Linked DNA regions of Homo sapiens: region 1 is linked to region 2. Evidence: fine-mapped expression QTL. Tissue or cell type: whole blood. Region 2 holds a variant in brackets; the other region holds the start of a gene. All regions are shown on one strand. Distances are between the middles of the regions.

Region 1 (5,143 bases), 35 kb before region 2:
GCGCCTGTAGTCCCAGCTACTCTGGAGGCTGAGGCAGTAGAATGGCGTGAACCCGGGAGGCGGAGCTTGCAGTGAGTCAAGATCGTGCCACTGCACTCCAGCCTGGGCGACAGAGCGAGACTCTGTCTCAAAAAAAAAAGCTTTGGCTTTTTTTGGGGAATATTTGTACCATAGTTAGCAGGTGAGCCTCCCAAATTCCCACATCCGAAATCTGAAGTGTTCCAGTGAGTATTTCCTTTTGTGCGGCATGTCAGCTGCTCAAAAGTTTTGAATTGGGGGTGTTTGGATTTGGGATACTTAGCCCGTAGTGCTGAGGAGAAAATTTCTGTCTCTTCTATTTTTCCTACACTTCCCAAATTTCTTTAAAGAGTATGAATAAATGCTATTGGGTAAAAAGAAATCTGTTTAAAACCTGTGATCTTTAAAGACTTGACCAGGGTATCCCACGCTTGAGGCACTGCCTAGGCCCAGTGAGCCAAGCCCAGCCCGAGTCGGCAGCGCGGCCCCGCCCCCGCAAGCCCCGCCCCATGCCGAGGGCATTTCCGGGCGCTCTAGGCAGCTCGGAGGACCCGTTCGGAAGACTGGCGGGGGACCCCAGGCGAACCCAAGGGTGGCGGGCCAGGGCCGGGCGAGTGCCTGGCGTTGCTCGCGCGGCTGGGGGCCATGGCTGTGGGGCCTCTCTGGGAGGGGTCGCGAGGCTGTGAACTAGCACGGGGCTACGTTGTAGAGAGAGAGATGGGGCGTCACGGAGGCAGGGGGTGCCAGGCAGGGCGCGGCTGCCAGAGGCCCAGAGGCCGAGCTGGGCCCTGCAGGTCTGAGGTGCAGGACCCGATTCTGGCCCAAGCAGGGGCGTCCCACGGCTCGAGCTGCCCGTCCAGGTGGTGTCTGAGGAGAGCCTGGGCAGCGGCCTTGCAGAGGGCAGGCCAGCAGCTCCTGCTTTGAGGGCTTGGAGGAGAACAGATTCCCGAACCAGGCCCATGATCAATGTATTTGGGTATTTGAACTAAATCCAGATTTCCTGGCTTCCCCTGAGGCCTGCTGAATCCCTTGGGGTGGGGCCTGGGAATCTGCGTTTTCCAGTGGGCCTCTCAGGTAGTTGGGTGGTCCCTGAGTGGGTTCCCATGACCCCATGAAACAAGACCCTAGAAAACGCAAGGCAAAGCGGCCTGGTGAGTGGCCAATGGTCTACAGGAACTGGATGTGATCAGAGCGAGACCTGCATCAACTGGGCAGGGGAGGCGTGGAGCCATACCTGAGGAAGAGACCCAGCCGGAACCCAGGGAAGAGCAGGCTGTGAAAACTGGGCAGAAACTTGCGGCGACTCGGAAGACACTGCCAGGAAACCCTCCCCGGGCCTCCTGTGGGGCTTGTAGCAGCCGCAGGGGTTGGCTCTCACCTTCTAGTCCCAGCCAGGTTGTCTTGGAGTCAGCTAATGGGCAAGGCCCCTACCTCTCTTAGGATCTGAGGATGGGAGGGGCTGCGTTTTTCCAGAGGATCTGCACGTGTGCAGGCTGAGTGTTGAGACTTGATTGGTGTCAACTGGCACTGCCTGCCCATGATGCACAAAAGCTACTGTAAGAAACAGGGTCCATGTCTCCAGGGAGCAGGACCCCGTTCTGAGGCCACAACCCCGAGGGCAGTCTCCGCCTGCAGAGTCCTCCCTCTCGCACCGGCTCACCTCGTGGTGAATCCCTTGGCTACGGTTTGGTGTGAGAAAAGAGATGGGTGTTTCACTCCCTGCTGCATCCCTGGTGACGGCCCTGGCATTTCGGGGCATGAGATCTTTGCTTAAAGGTTTTGCGGTGGTCACTGCACAGGGGGTGGGGGTGGGGTCCCTTGGTGCAATTTATCCGATTCTGCTGCGTGGATGACATCCACAGTGTTCCTCTCCAGTGGGGATTATCTGAGACCTTTCCGCATGCCCGCACCCACAGTCCGCTCCCTCACGGCAGCATGAACTCAGGAGGCGGGCGTTCCCACAGTCATTACATTTGCAGGGCCTCTCTATGTCCACTCTGATGCCTGAGGACCAGCGCTTCCACGAAGGTGTGGCCACGTCCAGTGCTGCTCATTGGCTTCTCTCCTGCGGGAATGTTCTGATCCCGAACGGAGCCTGAGCATGCGCGAAACCCTTCCCACGTTCACAAGGTGCTTCTCCAGTGTTCCATTACATCTCACCTATGCACACTACATGCATACGGTTTCCACCGGCTGTGCGTGTCCCTAGAAGTCACATTCACGGCGTTTCTCCCTGGGAGGAATTCTCCCGTGCATGGCTGCTCTGAGACCATTTGCACCTGCGGCCACGCGTGGGCTCCTCGAGGCTTACAAACCAGGCTGGACTCCTGAAGCCCTAGCTGCACTTGGCACTCGGCGAGGTTTTTCTACAAAATCTCATCTCAGCCATCTGAGTCCTTCACCATTTATCTTATGAATCCGCTCGAACGTACAAGGAAGGCCTCTCTGCCCTCCTGCTCCAGGGAGGAGGTTTTGACCCTCAGCTCCACCTCTGCGGCTGGCCCGGTCTCCGCAAACCTTTTTCTGCTTGGCCAGCTGGTGCCATGCTAGGCTTTCCCACTAGGGGCGCCAGAGAAAGCGCGCGAGGCTGCGGAGGAGAGAGGGGCACACTCTTTCCGGTTTGCTTCCGGTTTTTTCCTCAGGCTTCCGGTCTGTTTGGTGCCCTGGTCGCGTGTCTTCCGAACTCTGCTGCTTCGCCCCGGCAAGAGCACTTCCTTCCGCGGCTGCTAAAACTGGTGCGCGGGTTCCCAACTTCGCAGAAGAGCTTCATCGGCCCCCCGCTAGAGACCTCAGACCGCAGCCATCGACGCCTCGCCTCGGGGATCTGTCCCCACCCTCGGGGCCAGGTCAGGGACCAGAGACCTGCGAAGCCCTCTCCTTAGGGGTTTAGTTCCCAGGCTTTCTGACCCCAGTAATTCCAAACGCTTCCCTTTGTTTCCACAGCCCTAGCGTAGCAGGTGCTCCCTGCAGTTTTTGCTTCTGAGATAGAGTTCTCTTTTCAGCTCCTTCGGTAGTCACTTCGTACATAGTGATTCATGATGCGAAATCCTCTCTGTTGAAATAACTGACGAGGCCTCTGTCTTCTGACTGGACCCTGACTTCCATGCCCTTTCCACTCTCACTCCAGTACATGCCCAAACCCCAATCTTTGTTGCTCCAGGCATTGCCTCTGTGGCGCTGTGTCCCCTCCTTTGAACTCTGATCCTTCTGCTCAGGCCCTTTCTCCCAGTCTGAAGTAAGGAGTGAAAAAATGTGAATTGTTCTACTCATCTGGAAAAGAGAACCCTGAGGCAGGAACAAGTCGTTAATTGCATGTGCGTTTGTCCACAGCTCACCATGAGTCAGGCCCTGTGCTAGGTGCTGGGATGAAGCAGTGACTGACACAGGCCTGGACCTGTCCTTGGGAAGAGTGCGTCTGTGACACAGATACTGTGCCATGTGGCAAAGTAAGCGCGTGGGACAGCAGAGCCTTGTTTGCCATTAAAGTAATATCACAAGTCTGTTAAGGTTGGAGAATCAAGTGAACATGCTGAAAAGTTATGGGGAATGTAGTCTCATAGCTGGGGGAGCTGGGGGCCTTGTCAATTGGTTCCCCCAGTCTGGAGAGCAATCTGAGAGTAAGTAGTGACACTGTGTGTGCTGAGTGTGTCTGTGGGGGTGTTTTTGGATAAAATTAACATTTGAATTTGTGAACTGAGTGAAGCAGAGTGCCCTTCATAATGTGGGTGGGCCTCATTCAATTAGTTCAAGGCCCGCATAGGAACCACCTCCTGCCTGACTGAACCGGGACCTACGTCTTTTCTTGCCTTCAGACTTGAATGGAGACATCAGCTCTTTGTGGGTCTCAAGTCTACTGGCTTTCAATCAGCTCTTCTGCTTGACAGCTGCAGGTCTTGGGACTGCCCAGCCCCCATAACCCTGTGAGTGCATTCCTGATAATAACCCTCTTTCTCTTGTCCTCCCCCACCCCACATCATTGGTTCTGTTTCTCTGGAGAACCATAATACATCATTTACTAATCAGGAAATAGATTCAGAGACATTAATAACTCATCCAACCTCACAGTTAACTGTAGAGTTGGGCTTGAAATTCCAAGGTCGATTTTCTTAGCCAATACACCATGCTACATATATGTATGTAAAAATAAAAACGCTTGTGAACTGAAAAGGGTCCAAACTTAAGCTCATTTTGGTCCTTAATTGCTAATCCATAGGCATGTTTTGGTCCTTAATTGCTAATCCATAAGCATGTTTCGGTCCTTATTTGCTAATCCATAGGCCTGCACACCTGCCCCCAAGGCCATGGTTAGGTCAGCACTTGGCCCTCCCCTTGTCTGGGGCTGCCAGAAGCTGCCTCAGAAGACCTCTCCCTGCAGCTCCAGTGCTTTAGGGTTCAGCGCCCCTCCAGGGCCTTTATTTCCTTCTGGGCTCAAAAGCAGATACTGTGCCAGATACAGATGATCACTTTCTGGGTTCCAGAACTCACATGCACCCCTTTTCCTGGTCTCTCACATTTGCTGTGACCAACCCAAGCCTCAGGTGGTCCTCTGCTGAGACTGTCCACTCACGCTGTTGACAGAGCCCTTCCAGGAGCTCTTTTTGTGGGGATTTGCTATGTACCTGGCACTGTGCAAAGAACCCCACCCATGCCGTCCTTGCAGCCGCCATGTGCGGTGCGGAGCGGGCTGCGCTAACCACCATTGTCAGAGGCAGAAACAGGCTCCGTGAGGAAGGATAAGTGTGGGTTATGGAATCAGGGCTGGCAGATCCCAAACCTTGGCTCCCAGATACCATGGGATCTTTAGGAAGATCCCTGGTCACTTCGGGGAGGAGAGAGAGGGCGAAGGCTGAGAATCGGGGTCCTGGGTCGGAGGAGGGAGAGGGGTGGTGGTGTGGGCTTGGAGGTGGTGTGGGTTGGAGATTGGCCGTTGAGCTGGAGATGCTCCAGGTGGTCTGCGTCCAGGTTCCTCTGGTGGCGGGGGATGGGGCAGAGCCGGCAGGGGTGGGACGGGGCTCCGAGCCAGCCCCGGGGGCGGCCACCCGGACAAGCGGCCCTCGTGTGACGCAAATCGAAGGAGGATGGGGAGAGGCGTGACCAAGAGGCCGAGCACAGCTCAGGGTCGCAG
Region 2 (5,143 bases):
GAGGCCAGGGTTGACCCTAGGTAGAAAGTGGAGCTGATATGCATGTCGTAAGTGACACAACTCAACACATAAATACTTTGAATTCTCTTTGTTGAGAGGAGGTTGGTGGCCTTCCCTCCTCTCCCTCATGAGTGCAGGTAACACATAAACTCACTACAGATTTCCTATCTCAACAAGGAGGGTCTGGTCTTTTCTACAGGAAAATGTTTAGATGAATGTGACTCAGTTTCAGGCCAACATCACTTTCTAGGGCTCTATCTAGAGGTGGCGTGTGGGAGGAGGCAGATCAGGTGGGCGCCAGAACTGAAGATGAAGGCCACGTGTGCTGAGGGAGGATGCAGGCATAAAGCAGCATCTCTGCTGGGGTGGGCAGGGGGTGGGCCCTGGTGCCCAGGATAGAGGATCACAGCCCAAGCTGGCTGGAGTTTGAGGCCGGGGTCCAGCTCTGGTAGGAAACAAAGGTGAGAACCAAGAACCAGCACAGAAGACCAGTCGACCAGCTGTTTGCCTCATGGGCAGGGCGGAGCTGGAGAAACGGCAGCTCTCCAGGGCATGGCGGGAACCTATCTGGCTCTCTGCAGACTCCACTCCACGGCGGGGCGGGGGGTGGTTTGTGAACCCACTGAGCCTAACGGCTGCTGCCCGAGGCCTGTGTGGGGGTCCTCCATGCTGTACAGCACTGTTCCTTCTTCCAGACACTTGTCACTGCACGTGTGGCTGGTCACTGACATGGCAGTCTCCTTATGCGACAGGGTCTCCTGAAGGCGAGGATCGTATCTTTTTTATCTCCAAATCCTAGTCACATACTGTGGTCAGGGAACATTCTCCATAACGGCTCTGTCGACTCAACTTAGGCTGGCAGGTGCTAACCGGCAGAGACTGGAATGACTCACTTCTCTACACGCTGCCCACCCTGAGAAATAAAATATTTCTTAAAAGCAGAGTGGACTGGCCGGGCGCGGTGGCTCATGCCTGTAATCCCAGCACTTTGGGAGGCCGAGGTGGGCGGATCACGAGGTCAGGAGATCGAGACCATCCTGGCCAACATGGTGAAACCCTGTCCCTACCAAAACACAAAAAATTAGCTGGGCGTGGTGGCACGTGCCTGTAGTCCTAGCTACTCAGGAGGCTGAGGGAGGGGAATTGCCTGAACCCAGGAGATAGAAGTTGCAGTGAGCAAAGGTCGCGCCAGTGCACTCCTGCCTGGCGACAGAACAAGACTCCGTCTCAAACAAAAAAACCAAACCAAACCAAAACAAAAAACCCCACACGCAAAAAACAAAAACGGATTGGACCATAGCGATTTTCTTGGCCTCACCTCACAGGCCTGTAGACAGGAGTGATTAGCTAGTTACAAACAGCGCAACCCACGCTTGCCACACCCCTAAAGACTGGGGTTCTGGTTCTGTCGTGCAACTCCAGCGTAGCTCCGTCGCCTCTCTGGGCGGAGGACCCTTCACTTGTAATATGAAGCTCTGGGTATCCGTGGGCGGTAAGGGCTGCCTAGAAAACCTCACTCACCCTGGCGCCTCCCTCCACTACTTTCAGGGATCTGGGTCTCATGGAGAGACTGGAACATTAGTGGGCTTGAGATTCAGGGGCAATCTGCACTAAAACAGCCTGCTGGGTCCACGGCCTGCCAGGGGCCTGCTAGCTGTGCCAAGGCCTGAGATGCCAGGCATCTGAGCCAGGCGGAGGGGCCCGCCAGGGTCCCGTGCGTGCTCCTAGTTAGAGGCTCTCCTTTCAACGGCAGAGCCCCGCGGCCCACGTGCAGAGCTAGGTCGGCCTCGGGGCCGGCGCCCGGGAGGTGCTCAAAGCCGGGTCTTGCCACATCCCTGGAGCGCCGGGGTGCGGGGAGGCGGCGGGGCCCATACCGACGCTGCGCGTCCTGGGCCGGAGGCGGCAGGCAGGAGCCCAGTGAGTACCTGGCTGGAGACGAGAGGCGACGAGGACCTCCCGCTGCAGAGCGCGGACGCGCCCGGGCCCTACCAGGACTGCTGGAGGGCGGGGAGAGGCGCGCGCCCCTCGCGGGGGCCGGAGGCAGGAAAGGAGAGCCCTAGATGCGGGACCCCCCAACAGCTCCCCACCAGTGCCAGCGTCCCCGTCGGCCCTAGGCACCGGCAGGAAATGCCCGCCCGCTGACCCGCCCCTTCCGGCGGCCGCGCTAGGAGCCTGGGCCGGACTCGGTGATGGTGGGCGGTGGAGGGCTCGGCCCGAGCGGCTCCATCCCCAGCCGACTCCGCCCCCGAAGACCCCGCCCCGATCAGGCCCCGCCCCCTCAGGCTTCACCCATAACTGCCGCCACGCCCGCAGGGTCCTCCCCGAGCTGACCCCGCCCCTTTACAGTCGTCTATGGCAGGCGCCCTCCCGAAGGCTCCCCCGAAATCAGGTCCCTCCCCGAGCGGGCCCCGCCTCCGAAAGCTCCTTCCCGAGCCGGCTTCCCCTCATGCCCCGCCCCCTCAGGCTCCGCCCTCGTGTCCCGCCCCCGAAAGTTCCTCCCCAGCCACCTCCCCACATGCTCCGCCCCCAGGCTCCGCCCCATGTCCCGCCCCCAAAAAGCCCCGCCCCGAACCGGCACCCTCATGCCCCGCCCCCAGCGGCCCCGCCCCGCAAGGCCCAGTCCCCAGCAGCTCGGTCCCGAGCCGACCCTGTCACGTAGGCTGCGCCCACCAGACTCTCCGGATCCGACGCGCGTGGGCTCCTGGCTCCAGACCCCCAACGGGGAGGTCGCGGCCGCGTGCTGGGAGACTTGTCCCTGAGGACGCTCCCCGCCAACCCCCAGCCCCCGCCGACCCCCAGCTCCCGCCTCCGCCGACCCCCAGCCCCCGCCTCCGCGGCGCCCACGGCTTGCCTCCACGGGAAGTCGCTGTCTCCGCCTTCAGCGCGGAAGGAGAACCGACGCCTCTCCAGGCCGCGGGCCCCTAGCTAGGCGGGCAACGCCTCCACCGCCGCCGCCACCGCGTGCGCGCCCTGGCGAGCCGTCCCCCACCACGTGGCCCCTGCCGCTCCTCCCGCCGCAGGCAGCCCCTCCGGGATGTGCTCCCAGCCGCTGGCTGTGCTCACTCCACTTCCTGCCTGCCCAGATCGCACTGAGCCGCCAGGCCCGCCAGAGCCCCGCGTGTTAGTTCCCTACGTACCGCAAATTGGGTGTCCTAAAACGACATCCGCCTATTATCTCAAGGCTTCTGTGGGCCAGAAGGCCAGGCTTAGCTGGGTCCTCAGCTC[T/C]GGTCAGCCGCTGTGTTCTCATCTGGGGGCTGGACTGGGGAAGGATCACTTCCCACCTCATGCGATTGCTGGCAGAAGTCATGTCCTGGTGCCTGTAGGACTGAGGGCCGGCAGGAGCTGCTCTCAGCTCCCGGGGGCTGCCTGCCAGTCCCTACTGTGGGAGGGTGGGCGGTTCACAGGGTGGCCGCTTCCCCAGGGTCCGTGGGAGAGCCCCACCCCCAGATGGAGTCCTGTGGAACAGAACCTAATTGTGGGTGACATGCCACCCCCTCGGCCCAGTTCTACTCAGATTCAAGTCACAAGTGCCGCCTGTAGCCAAGGGAAGGATGGGCATTGGGCTGGCTCTGGCACATCTCCTTAGGATATCTGCAGCATTCTGCCCCCCCAACACTTCCCATTTCCACTTTCTATATGATTTCCTTATTATATTTATTATTAATTATCCCCCGCTCCCACACTCCCATGCAAATCAGCTCTTGGAGGGCAGCCACCTGTTCTTGTTCTGGGTGCCTGATGTGTGCTGGGCCCTCGTGTCGTGTGGACTGAGTGAGCATGAGTGGAGATCTTAGGTGCTGCTGGTGTCGTGGCACCCTAGGAACTGCCTGCCCCCACCCAGCCCTCTCTCCAACTGCCTCCTGGACTTAGCAAGGTGTTGAAAACCAGGCAGTTCTGCTCCCTCCTCGTCCCACCCCCCTCTCCCATCCTGTTGCTTTTACCTCCCAATGTTTTAAACCACCCACTCTTGTCCAGCCTGCTTCCTCTGTCCCGGCTGCAACCCCATCTCCTCTCACCAGCATTACTTCTGTGCCCTGCCCTGGGGTCTCCCTGCCTTCATTTGGGCTCCCCTGTCCACCCCTCCTACAGCAGCTGGAGGGACTGACTTACCGGGCAAACCCACAGTGGCCCTCCCAGCTTCACGCCTGTCCTGCAGGATGAGGTCTGGGCCCCCTTAGCAGCTGCAAAGGGGCCTGCACAGACTTGCAGGCCGCCCCTCTCACCACCCTTTCCCCTTCCAGGAGACTCAGCAGCAAGTGCTTGCCCTGCCACACAGCATCGGCTGCATGCCTCAACCCTGGGCCTTGAACACCCCCGCTCCGCCTCCGCCTGACAGACCCTTTCCTGCTTTTTAAGACTCCACCTGTTCGAGCTCCTCTGTGCCAGCCCCGGCCTCGCCCCTGCCAGCCTTAGGCCAAGGCTGCGTGGGTAGCTGTCCATACAGGTTACATGCTGCACATGACCCTCGGTCAGGGCTTGTCTTTTTCATCTTTGTATTATCGGGGGCCAACACATAGCCCATAGCAGGTGCCTAATCCATATTTATTGAGCAATTGATGACTGATGGGGCTGGGACAGAGAGAATAAGACTGAGAATAAGAATGGCAGGGTGGGCGCAGTGGCTCATGCCTGTAACCCCAGCACTTTGGGAGGTCAAGGTGGGTGGATTGCTTGAGGTCAGGACTTCGAGACCAGCCTGGCCAACATGGTGAAAACCTGTCTCTACTAAAAATACAAAAATTAGCCGGGTGTGGTGGTACGTGCCTGTAGTTCTGGCTACCTGGGAGGCTGAGGCAAAAGAATTGCTTAAACCTGGGAGGCAGAGGTTGCAGTGATGCTGAAATCATGCCACTGCACTTCAGCTTGGGTGACAAAGCGAGACTCCATCTCAAAAAAAAAAACAAAAGCAAACAAACAAAAAACAAAAGCAGAAGAAGGAGAAAGGTGTCCTTCCCCTATCTCAAAAGAGACAGCCCCTTGCCTTCTAAATGAGCCAGGTGGCCCCTCCAGTCCCTTCAGGCGTGGTGGTGGCTGGGCCGGCCCACCAGAGACTCCATTTGGTGCCAACACCATTGGTATGTGATATGTGGGCAGAGGCTGTTTCCCTGGCCCGGAATCTCCCATTGTCACCAGACCCCCCCGC

What was found. PIP is the estimated chance that this variant, and not a neighbour inherited with it, causes the effect.
Region 1: it holds the start of MINCR, and the variant in region 2 is fine-mapped to the expression of MINCR in whole blood (INTERVAL, PIP above 0.99).

The regions. Positions count from the first base shown.
Region 1 is chr8:143,279,203-143,284,345 of GRCh38, reverse strand. MINCR (MYC-induced long non-coding RNA) reads left to right here and starts at 2,646. Exons shown (of 3, transcript NR_120682.1): 1 at 2,646-2,864; 2 at 3,349-3,464; 3 at 3,831-4,191. RefSeq lists enhancers at 2,717-2,866, 4,163-4,805.
Region 2 is chr8:143,243,925-143,249,067 of GRCh38, reverse strand. ZFP41 (ZFP41 zinc finger protein) reads right to left here and starts at 2,129. Exons shown (of 3, transcript NM_173832.6): 1 at 1,926-2,129. RefSeq lists silencers at 1,695-1,744, 1,785-2,674, 2,875-3,034. The variant T/C (reference allele first, on the strand shown) is at 3,226.